Regions from separate parts of the Homo sapiens genome. Here region 2 is linked to region 1. The links come from fine-mapping of genetic effects on gene expression. A gene starts in region 1. The other region holds a variant in brackets. All regions are shown on one strand. Distances are from middle to middle. Region 1 holds the start of CAPN12 (calpain 12). Region 2 overlaps ACTN4 (actinin alpha 4).

What was found. PIP is the estimated chance that this variant, and not a neighbour inherited with it, causes the effect.
Region 2: its variant is fine-mapped to the expression of CAPN12 in whole blood (TOPMed, PIP 0.96).

Annotation. Positions count from the first base shown.
Region 1 is chr19:38,741,477-38,746,982 of GRCh38, reverse strand. It overlaps CAPN12 (calpain 12), which reads left to right and starts at 2,509. Exons shown (of 21, transcript NM_144691.4): 1 at 2,509-3,054; 2 at 3,881-3,950; 3 at 4,455-4,573; 4 at 5,073-5,206. The coding sequence starts at 2,818.
Region 2 is chr19:38,700,161-38,705,160 of GRCh38, reverse strand. ACTN4 (actinin alpha 4) reads right to left here. Exons shown (of 21, transcript NM_004924.6): 2 at 4,447-4,561; 3 at 4,040-4,159; 4 at 141-227. LOC107985291 (a long non-coding RNA gene) reads left to right here. Exons shown (of 2, transcript XR_001753937.2): 2 at 2,997-3,237. Among named protein-coding and RNA genes, the nearest start is that of CAPN12, 42 kb to the left of the region's middle. RefSeq lists enhancers at 1-546, 2,156-2,656. The variant G/A (reference allele first, on the strand shown) is at 2,111.

The sequences.
Region 1 (5,506 bases):
AGGTGTGTACCACCATGCCCAGCTAATTTTTTTTTTTTTTTTTTTTTTTGAGACAGAGTCTTGCTCTGTCAACCAGGCTGGAGTGCAGTGGCGGCTCACTGCAAGCTTCGCCTCCTGGGTCCACGTCATTCTCCTGCCTCAGCCTCCCGAGTAGCTGGGACTACAGGTGGCCGCCACCATGCCTGGCTAATTTTTTGTATTTTTTGTAGTAGAGATGGGGTTTCACCGTGTTAGCCAGGATGGTCTTGATCTCCTGACCTCGTGATCTGCCTGCTTTGGCCTCCCAAAGTGCTGCTGGGATTACAGGCTTGAGCCACCGTGCCCGGCCTTTTTTTTTTTTTTTTTGAGATGGAGTTTTGCTCTCTTGCCGAGGCTGGAGTGCAGTGGTGCAGTCTTGGCTCACTGAAACCTCCACCTCTCGGGTTCAAGCGATTCTCCTACCTCAGCCTCCTGAGTAGCTGGGATTACAGGTGCGTGCCACCACACCCAGCTAATTTTTTTGTATTTTTTAGTAGAGATGGGGTTTCACCATGTTGGCCAGGCTGGTCTGGAACTCCTGACCCGCCCGTCTCGGCCTCCCAAAGTGCTGGGATTACAGGCGTAGTAAACTACCGCGTCCAGCCTAATTTTTGTATTTTTAATAGAGATGGTGTTTCACCATGTTGGCCAGGCTGGTCTTGAACTCCTGGCCTCAAGTGTTCTGCCCACCTCAGCCTCCCAAAGTGCTGGGATTACGGGCATGAGCCACCATGCCCGGCCCTGTTTTGGGGGGTTTTTTGAGATGCAGTCTTGCCCTGTTGCCCAGGCTGGAGTGCAGTGGCACAATCTCGGCTCACTGCAACCTCCGCCTCCCAGATTCAAGCGGTTCTCCTGCCTCAGCCTTCTGAGTAGCTGGGATTACAGGTGCCCGCAACTATGTCCGGCTAATTTTTGTATTTTAGTAGAGACGGAGTTTCACTACATTGGCCTGGCTGGTCTCGAACTCCTGACCTCAGGTGATCTGCCTGCCTCGGCCTCCCAAAGTGCTGGGATTACAGGCATGAGCCACCACGCCCAGCCAGAAAGCCTGTTTTGTAACCCACTTTTGGTAGCCGTGTACGTGGGTGGCTTGGACAATATTTGTGGGTCCACTTGGAGGGAAGAAGGCCAAAAGGCTTGAGGGACATCTGAGTGGCGTGGAGGTGACAAGGCTCTGGGAGGGCAGCAGACACCCTCAACGAGGGTGGAAGGTCTGCTGGGACCAGCACTGCTGAGGCTCTGGCATCTCCGTACCTGTTTCTCCCATTTCCTCCAATGGCTCCAGAGTCCTTTGGGGGAAATACTGCTCCATCCAGACTCTGAGTGGCGTGGGCCAGGGCAGGGCATCATGGTCACCAGATGGCTCCCAGCACAGGAGAGGTACAGAGCCATCCCTCCAGGGTCAGCCTCCCTGGGCAAGCAGGCTGAGTCTACCTTGTCCGGGAGGGGAGGAGGCGCATCCTGAGGGCTTAGGGGGCGTGAGCGGAGGGGAGCTCAGGGTCCCTCGGTGGATGATGGAGGAGCCACATATGGGTTACAGGGACAGACAGAAAGATGGAGAGGAAGAGACAGGGAGGCAGACACAAGGTACACTGACAGGGTCTGAAGGAGGAGGGGCTGGGGGCCTGGACTCCTGGGTCTGACAGGTACAGAGAGGAACAGACACACGCTGAAAGAGACACAAAGAGAGAGGGGACAGGCATAGTGATTCACGCCTGTAATCCCAACACTTTGGGAGGCCAAGCGGGGAGGATCACTTGAGCCCAGGAGTTCGAGACCAGTCTGGGCAACAAAGTGAGATCCCCGCCCCATCTCTACAAAAAAAAAAAAAAAAAAAAAAAGAGGGTGGGGTGGGGAGAGGGGTGGAGTTGGGGAAATACAGAGACACAAATATTGCCAGAAACAAAAAACAAGAAAGGGCCAGGCACAGTAGCTCACATCTGTAATCCCAGCTCTCTGGGAGGCTGCTGAAGCAGGAGGATCACTTGAGGCCAGCAGTTCAAGACCAGCCTGGGGAACATATGGGACCGCCCCCCGCCACCCCTCTGTCTCTACTTTAAAAAAAATTTTTTTTAATTAACAAAACCTGACCAGGCACAGTGGCTCACGTCTGTAATCCCAGCACTTTGGGAGGCCAAGGTGGGCGGATTGCTTGAGGCCAGGAGTTCAAGACCAGCCTGGTCAACATGGTAAAATCCCTTCTCTAACAAAAAATACAAAAATTAGCTGGGCATGGTGACACGAGCCTGTAATCCCAGCTACTTGGGAGGCTGAGGCAGGAGAATCACTTGAACCTAGAAGGCGGAGGTTGCAGTGAGCTGAGATCGTGCCACTGCACTCCAGAAACTGATGGAGAAGAAACATGAAGGCGGGGAGAGAGAAACTGTCAGAGGGAGGGGGAGAGAGGCAGTCTGAGAGATAGAGACACCGAGGTAAACCCGCCTCCTTCCCCAGCCCCACAGGCATAAGTAGGCAGAAGCTCACCCCCACACTGACCTCCTTCTTGGTGCTCTGACAGCGGCAGCCGGTCCTCCCTCAGCTCTGCCCGCCTTCTCTCCTGCTGCTGGCCAAGCCCATTAAGCTGCTACCTTGGCCACAACTGAAGGCCCCACGCCCTGGGAAGAAAGCTACTGAAGAGGCGTCCCTGCTCCCCAGCACCCCAAACCATCAATTAATATTAACGAGGGAAGGCTCCTCATTGCCTAAAGACCCCACTGGGGCTCCAATGGAAGAGAGGCCCCGCCCCCGTGACTCAGGAGGTTAAAGGGCCTGGTGCCGGCTTGTGAGGCCAGTGTCCAGATGGCATCCAGCAGTGGGAGGGTCACCATCCAGCTCGTGGATGAGGAGGCTGGGGTCGGAGCCGGGCGCCTGCAGCTTTTTCGGGGCCAGAGCTATGAGGCAATTCGGGCAGCCTGCCTGGATTCGGGGATCCTGTTCCGCGACCCTTACTTCCCTGCTGGCCCTGATGCCCTTGGCTATGACCAGCTGGGGCCGGACTCGGAGAAGGCCAAAGGCGTGAAATGGATGAGGCCCCATGTAAAGTGTGGCTGGGGTCTGGGCTCTGGGGTCTGAGGGAGGAGGGGCTGGAGGCATGGACTCCTGGGTCTGAGGAAGGAAGGCTGGGGGCCTGGACTCCCTGGTCTGAGGGAGGAGGGGCTCGAGACCTGGACTCTTAGGTCTGAGGGAGGAGGGGCTGGGCCTGGACTCCTGGGTCTGAGGGAGGAAGGGCTGGGCCTGGACTCTTGGGTCTGAGGGAGGAGGGGCTGGGGACCTGGACTCCTGGGTCTGAGGGAGGAGGGGGCTTGGACCTGGACTTCTGGATCTGAGGGAGGAGAGGCCAAGGCCTGGACACCTGGGTCTGAGGGAAGAGGGGGCTGGGGACCTGGACTCCGGGGTCTGAGGGAGGAGGGGCTGGACCTGGACTCCTGGGTCTGAGGGAGGAGGGGCTGGGGACCTGGATTCTTGGGTCTGAGGGAGGAGGGGCTCGGGACCTGGACTCCTGGGTCTGAGGGAGGAGGGGCTGGGCCTGGACTCCTGGGTCTGAGGGAGGAGGGGCTCGGGACCTGGACTCCTGGGTCTGAGGGAGGAGGGGCTGGGCCTGGACTCCTGGGTCTGAGGGAGGAGGGGCTCGGGACATGGACTCCTGGGTCTGAGGGAGGAGGGGCTGGGCCTGGACTCCCGGGTCTGAGGGAGGAGGGGGCTACCATGGGACTGGCTCAGCACAACTTCTGGAGACCCAGGGAAGCCATGCTCCTGCCCACAGGCTTCCAGGCCTTTCATGGGCTTGGAGGCCCTCACTCCTCTGGATGAGACCTTTCCTCGCTTTCTCAGGCTGAGGCCTGGAATCCCCCACCACCCACAGGAGTTCTGTGCTGAGCCGAAGTTCATCTGTGAAGACATGAGCCGCACAGACGTGTGTCAGGGGAGCCTGGGTGAGACCCTGAACCCACCTGGAGTCCTCAGATCCAGCTAGTTTCAGCTGAGATCCTGACAGCTCCATCCCTTTGTCCACCCACTCCCGGCCCCTGGATCCCTCCTCAGTCTCTTCTCTCCCTAGGCCTCTCTCTCCCTCCTCCCTCCTTCCTTCCTTCCTTTTTTTTTTTTTTTTTTTTTTGAGATGGGGTCTCACTCTGTCACCCATTCTGGAATACAGTGGCACCATCATAGCTCACTGCAGCCTTAACCTCCTGGACTCAAGCAATCTTCCTGCCTCAGCCTCCCAAGTAGCTGGGACTACAGGTGCATGCCACCATGCCCAGCTAATTTTTAAATTTTCTTGTAGTGGAGTCTTGCCATGTTGGCCAGGCTGGTCTTGAACTCCTAGGCTCACGTGATCTTTCTGCCTTGGCCTCCCAAAGTGCTGGGATTAGAGGCATGAGCCACCGCACCAGGCCTCCCTCCTTCCATCCTCACCTAATCCTGGCCTCTCCTCCCAGGTAACTGCTGGTTCCTTGCAGCTGCCGCCTCCCTTACTCTGTATCCCCGGCTCCTGCGCCGGGTGGTCCCTCCTGGACAGGATTTCCAGCATGGCTACGCAGGCGTCTTCCACTTCCAGGTACAGCTCAGTTCCTCTGCCCATGCCTCCGTTTCCCCCATGGTGACTTGGTGATATGGATTTTTCTTTTTTTTTTTTTTTGAGATGGAATCTCACTCTGTCATCCAGGCTGGAGTGCAGTGGCACAATCTCGGCTCACTGCAACCTTCGCCCCGCCCCCAGGTTCAAGCAATTCTCTGCCTCAGCCTCCTGAGTAGCTGGGATTACAGGCACCCGCCATCATGCCCAGCTAATTTTTTCTTATTTTTAGTAGAGATGGTATTTCACCATCTTAGCCAGGCTGGTCTCGAATTCCTGACCTCGTGATCCATCCGCCTCGGCCTCCCAAAGTGCTGGGATTACAGATGTGAGCCACCGCACCCGGCCAGCCATATGGATTTCATAGTTAACGTTGACTTGGGGCTGTAATTCCTGACTCTGGGACTGGCACAGCAGAGGCAGGGCCCAGGCAGGGTTGGAGGTTGGAAGCCGAGTCCGGCCCTGCATCTTCTCCCACCAGCTCTGGCAGTTTGGCCGCTGGATGGACGTCGTGGTGGATGACAGGCTGCCCGTGCGTGAGGGGAAGCTGATGTTCGTGCGCTCGGAACAGCGGAATGAGTTCTGGGCCCCACTCCTGGAGAAGGCCTACGCCAAGTGAGGACCCCAGTTCCAACCAGCTGCAGCCCTAAGTCCCCACAGCAGGCATCAAGCCACAGGGGGACCCAGAGTCCCCCAAGCTCTGCAATCCTCCAAACACCCCACCAAGAATCCCAAACCAAGTGACAACCGCCAGAACCCTCATATCACAACATCACCTGAGCAACTTCATGTTTTTTTTTTTTTTCTTTTTTTTTGAGACGGAGTCTCACTCACTCTGTCGCCCAGGCTGGAGTGCAGTAGCGCGATCTTGGCTCACTGCAACCTCTGCCTCCCAGGTTCCAGCGATTCTCCTGT
Region 2 (5,000 bases), 42 kb after region 1:
GACTACCCCTGCAAGGGCCAGGCCCTGTGAGTGACCCCAAGGAAACAGGAAGAGGCTTGAAGCATGAAGATCACACTTCAGCTCTCCTCTAACCCGCCCTGACTCAGGTGGGAAGCGGGGGCAGTACAGGTGGCTGTCACCTTCCACGGAGATGTCCTGGATGGCGAACCTAAGGATGATGGTCCAGATCATTCCCAGGGTCATCTTTGCGTTGCCGTCCACAATCTCTGCACACAGGGAAGGGGGCAGAGGGCAGAAGGTCGTTAAAACCAGAGTGAGGCTCCTCCGCCCAACCTGAAGGTGGCCTTCCAGCCCCATCTAGAGAAAGGCTCCAAACCACCCCCTGGTTGCATCTCCCAGGCCTGTCCTCCTCCACCTCCCTCAGGAGAAAATGCAGGGAACAGTCTCTAGGCAGCACTGTCCCAGAGCCTCCTGCTGCTGAGCGCCTGCAGGCTTCTGGCCACAAGGGTCCCTGGCCCCGCAGCCAGCTCCTTCTCCTGACCCAACTCAAAAAACCGCTCCTCCAAGAGGCTGGTCCCAGGCGTGTGGCCTCTGTTCACACCTCTCTCAACTCTCAGTGCTCTGTACATTTCTGCCGTAATCTGCGTACCTCCTGACTACAGGGGGGCACCCCGGGCCCCCACTCTCAGGGCAAAGGTGGTCTTTTTCATCTCGCAGTCAGCAAATGTGCACTACATTATTGTTTATTGTGAATCTGTCCACTTCCTTCCAATCCTACTGCCGACACTCTCCACCAAGCCACTGTCATCTCCAGAGCTCAATGCGGCTGCCTCCTATGTACCCTTCCCGCCCATAATCCACATCGACACAGCAGCGAGCATGGTTGGTTTCCTTCTTTTGAGACAGGGTCTGGCTGGCTGGAGTGCAATGGTGTAGTCATAGCTCACTGCAGCCTTGACTGCCTGGGCTCAAGCAATCCTTCTGCCTCAGTCTCCCGAGTAGCTGGGACCACAGACGCATGCCACAACATCTTGCTAGTTTTTAAACTTTTTGTAGAGGCTGGGTCTTATTATGTTACCCAAGCTGGTCTCAAACTCCTGCTCAAGTGATCTTCCTGCCTTGGCCTCCCAAAGTGCTGGGATTGCAGGTGTGAGCCACCATGCCTGGCCCACAGGGAAAGGGCTTGCCCTGAAGGCCCAGGCCCTGCCATCCTGCTGGAATTCTCTAGCTGCATCCTCTGGGCAAGCCAGGCTCTTTCTTGCTTTGATACGCTCTGTCCACTCACAAAGCACGCCCCTAGCCTGCGACCCTCAACTGGCTGGTCCTTCTCATCGTGTAAGCTTCTGCTTGTGTCACCTCTCGTGGTGGCTTCCCTGACTGCCCGTCCCAAGGAGCTCCCCAACCCGCCACCCAGTTCCTCTCCCTGGCCCCTGTGCTGCCCCAAGGCATCACTAGTGAAATCACATGTTGGTCGGGCTGTTTACTTGTTCACTGTCTGCCTGCCCTCGTGAGGGCGGGGCTGCTCTGACCACCACTGGATCCAGTGCCTGGAAGGCCAGTGAGGAACAAGCATGGCTGCTGTGTTGTCAGGAAGGGGAGAGCACGGGCCTGAGGCCAGACTGCACGCTTTCTGAACTAACCTAAAAACAAACATTTGCGGCCGGCTGTGGTGGCTCACGCCTGTTTAGTCCCAGCAATTTGGGAGGCTGAGGCAGGTGTGGATCGCCTGAGGTCAGGAGTTCGAGACCAGCCCGGCCAAGATGGTGAAGCCCCGTCTCTACTAAAAACACAAAATTAGCCTGGCGTGGTGGCGGGTGCTTGTAATCCCAGCTACTCTGGAGGCTGAGGCAGGAGAATTGCTTGAGCCCGGGAGGCAGAGGTTGCAGTGAGCTGAGATTGCACCATTGCACTCCAGCCTAGGTGACAAGAGTGAGATTCCATCTCAAAAAAAAAAAAAAAAAAATTGCTGAAACTTCTCAAAAGAAGGGCTTGGACCACACCTTCTTCAGCCTCAGTAACTTAAGAGAAAAATCATCTCTGCAAGGCCCAGGACAGCTGTGTGTCTGCGGCTGGGTGAGAGAAGGCAGTGCCTCATCCCAGAGTCCATCAGCCAGCCGTGCCTAGGGCAGTCCTCCCAACTTGTCAACAC[G/A]CCATATGCAAGGGGCATGATGGAGTGGCTTCCAAAGAAGACAGAGGGGCGCCACTGCTGCAAGCACTCTCGGGGAAGGGCTGGGCACAGGGGTGAGTTCCAAAGCTAACTGCAGAGCTGGAGGCCCAGGACACCACAGGAGACCCTGCTCACTGACCTCTGAGCAGAATACTCCAGGGCAGGCTTGCTTGGAAGCAGGTGGAGAGGTCACAGAGAAGATGGGGCTCACCTTCCCCCGGGGACACACCCAGAGGAAGGGGGTGTCCATGAGCCACAGCTTTCGGGTTTTGAGAGGAGGAAATATGCTCATTCTGCTGCCCAGAGACAGGGGAGGGACCCAGTGTCCACCCTGTCCTAGGGTTCAGAGCCCCAGACCCAGAAACTGAGCAGCACCACCTGCCCCTTAGTGCAGCGAGGCAGCTCGAGCCTCAGGAAATCTATTCTGTGCACCTCCTGAGGGCCGGGCCTGCAGAGCTGGGCAAGGCCGCAGCTCCCCGGCTCAGCAAGTACAGGTGCAGCTGGTAACGGAGGGCTTATGGAGTTCCGGTGAGGAGAGGAGGATGGCGTTTCTCATGACACATCCACCAGCTGCTTCTCTGACCTGCAGCTGTGCCTCCGGCCCCTCTCATCACCCCCACGGGAAGCCAATGCTCCCGCGAATGCCCAATCATGTGGAAGGACAGGGGGACAGGGTGGGGCGGGGTTCTCAGGTGCCTTGAGCCCCAGGAACGCCTCCATTAGGCTTTGTTCCAAGGCCCCACAGTCACAGGGATTGGGAGTGAACCAATTTGGGCATGAACAGAGAACATTTTTAGACCAAGTTTTTCTCCAAATGAAAACTGATGACTGACATGGGTCTCTCCTCTAACCCCTTCTGTATTTACAGACTAGCATTTGAGCAAAATAAATGCAGCTGTGAGAAGCAGAAGGCTGGAACAGAGCCTGGAGGAAAGACCCATGCAAGGACAGAAAATCTCAGGGCCTGACTGAATTTTTGGGTTGTGATTTTTTTAAACAAACACCAACCACCTCGACTGTGGCATGCAAGGCTTGGCACCCCTCATCGCAGAGGTCCTGGGCCGGGGCAGAGCCTTGGAACTCAGCACACACATTCTGGCCCGGAGTCTTGGCCAAACTCTCAGAGCCCTGTCATTAACGGCAATTAGTTTACTTTGTTTTTCTAGAAGCTGGGACAACATGGATGTCAGGGTGAAGAAATCTTACTCTGACTAATGAGTGGACTGCGAGCTCATGCTGCTGGGGCTCCATCAGGCCTCGCCTGTCTCTAAAAGCGCCTGGGAGCTCAACCCAGGGGCCCCTGCTGAGAGCCTGCTGCTCTAGTGAGGGCCTGCAGGTAGTGGACTGTGGTCCTGGTTATCTACGTGGGGCCCAGGAGGATCCTGGGGTGGTCAGAGGCAAAATTCTCCAAGCCCATGCACACAGGGCAAAGTCTAGGCACTGACCTTTGGCCGTGCACTCCCTGTCCCAATGCCTGACATGGGGCCTCCAGTCCTTCTCTGATACCGGGCAGGGCATAATGAGAAAGGTGTTCCTGGTACAGAGAGAGGCCATGGCACATGTTTGTCACTGTCTGCTGAGCCTGGCACAAGGAGAACCAGTGAGGGCGACCTGAGTCCGAGTCAAAACCATTCCTCCCCCTGCAGAAGCCGTCGCCCCCGTGGTTGGGTGGGTTGCACTTCCTAGATTTGGACTGCGCCCACCGGATTTTTCCAAGGGTTTGGGGGAGCTTGTGGGCCCAGCATCATATCAAGAGCAGTTGTTGTGATCACTGCTGAGTATGTACTGGGGCTCTGAGTGCCCCAAGCGCCCTGCCACCAACAAAACTTCTCTTCAGGATGCAGATGTTGTGCTTCAGAGCCTAAAGGTCAGAAACCGAGCAGGACCCTCGCTGCCCCACCTCCAGCTCACCTTCTGCCCCGATGGAGACCAGCTTGACGCCTTTGCTGGCAATAAAGTCCAGCGCTTTGTTCACATTGTTGATTTTGTGCACTCTCATCTTCCCCCGCTCCGGCTTAGGTAACCGCTCCCCTGAGAAGTGCACAAAGAGAAAAGAGGGGGCGAGACAGAGAGAGAGAAAGGGAGAGAGGGCGAGAGGGAGAGAGGCTTTAGAGTCTCCTCTGTTCTCCAAAAGCAGGTTCCTCTGCTGGCCCACCAGGCCACTCTGGCCCCACCCATCAGACCACCGTGCAGCTATTAAGGGGTGCCCTCTCCTCCCCAGGAGCAATGGGACAGCTGGGTGGGCAGGGTCTCTGGGGACCGCTGTGGCAGAGCACCTGTGCCAGGGCTCGGCCGCACTGCGTGGCTGGGAGTCTCACCTGATATGACCTCCAGGAGCAGCATGAGCTTGAGCCCGTCTCGGAAGTCCTCATCAATGTTCTCGATCTGTGTGCCTGCCTTCCGCAGGTGGGAGTTGCACCATGCCGTGAAGGTCTGGGGAAGCAGAACAAAGGACAGTGCGCAGAGTCAGCCTGGCTGTCGGGGCTCTCTCCACACACCTGCAGGGCCGCAGCTCTGACCTCAGGAGAACCGCAGCTGCCACGGAGCACTCGCCGACACACACCGTACATGGCCGATACACACATTGTTTCTGATCCTTACAGTGACCCCGGGAGGCAGATGTGAGGAAACTGAGGCTCGGGGTGGTTAATGACCCATCACAAGACCATCCAGGCGGTAAGTGGCAGAGCTTGGATTTGAACCCAGGTCTGTCAATTTTGGCAACATGTGCTTTTTCCACACCCCCAAGCTGCCTCAAGGGAGACCAGTACGCACACCAGACAAAAGCGCCTCAGCCCGCCGCCGGCTCACTCAGTCACACAAACATGACTGAGCACCAGGCTCGGTGGTGTGGAATGAACAGGTCGGGCTC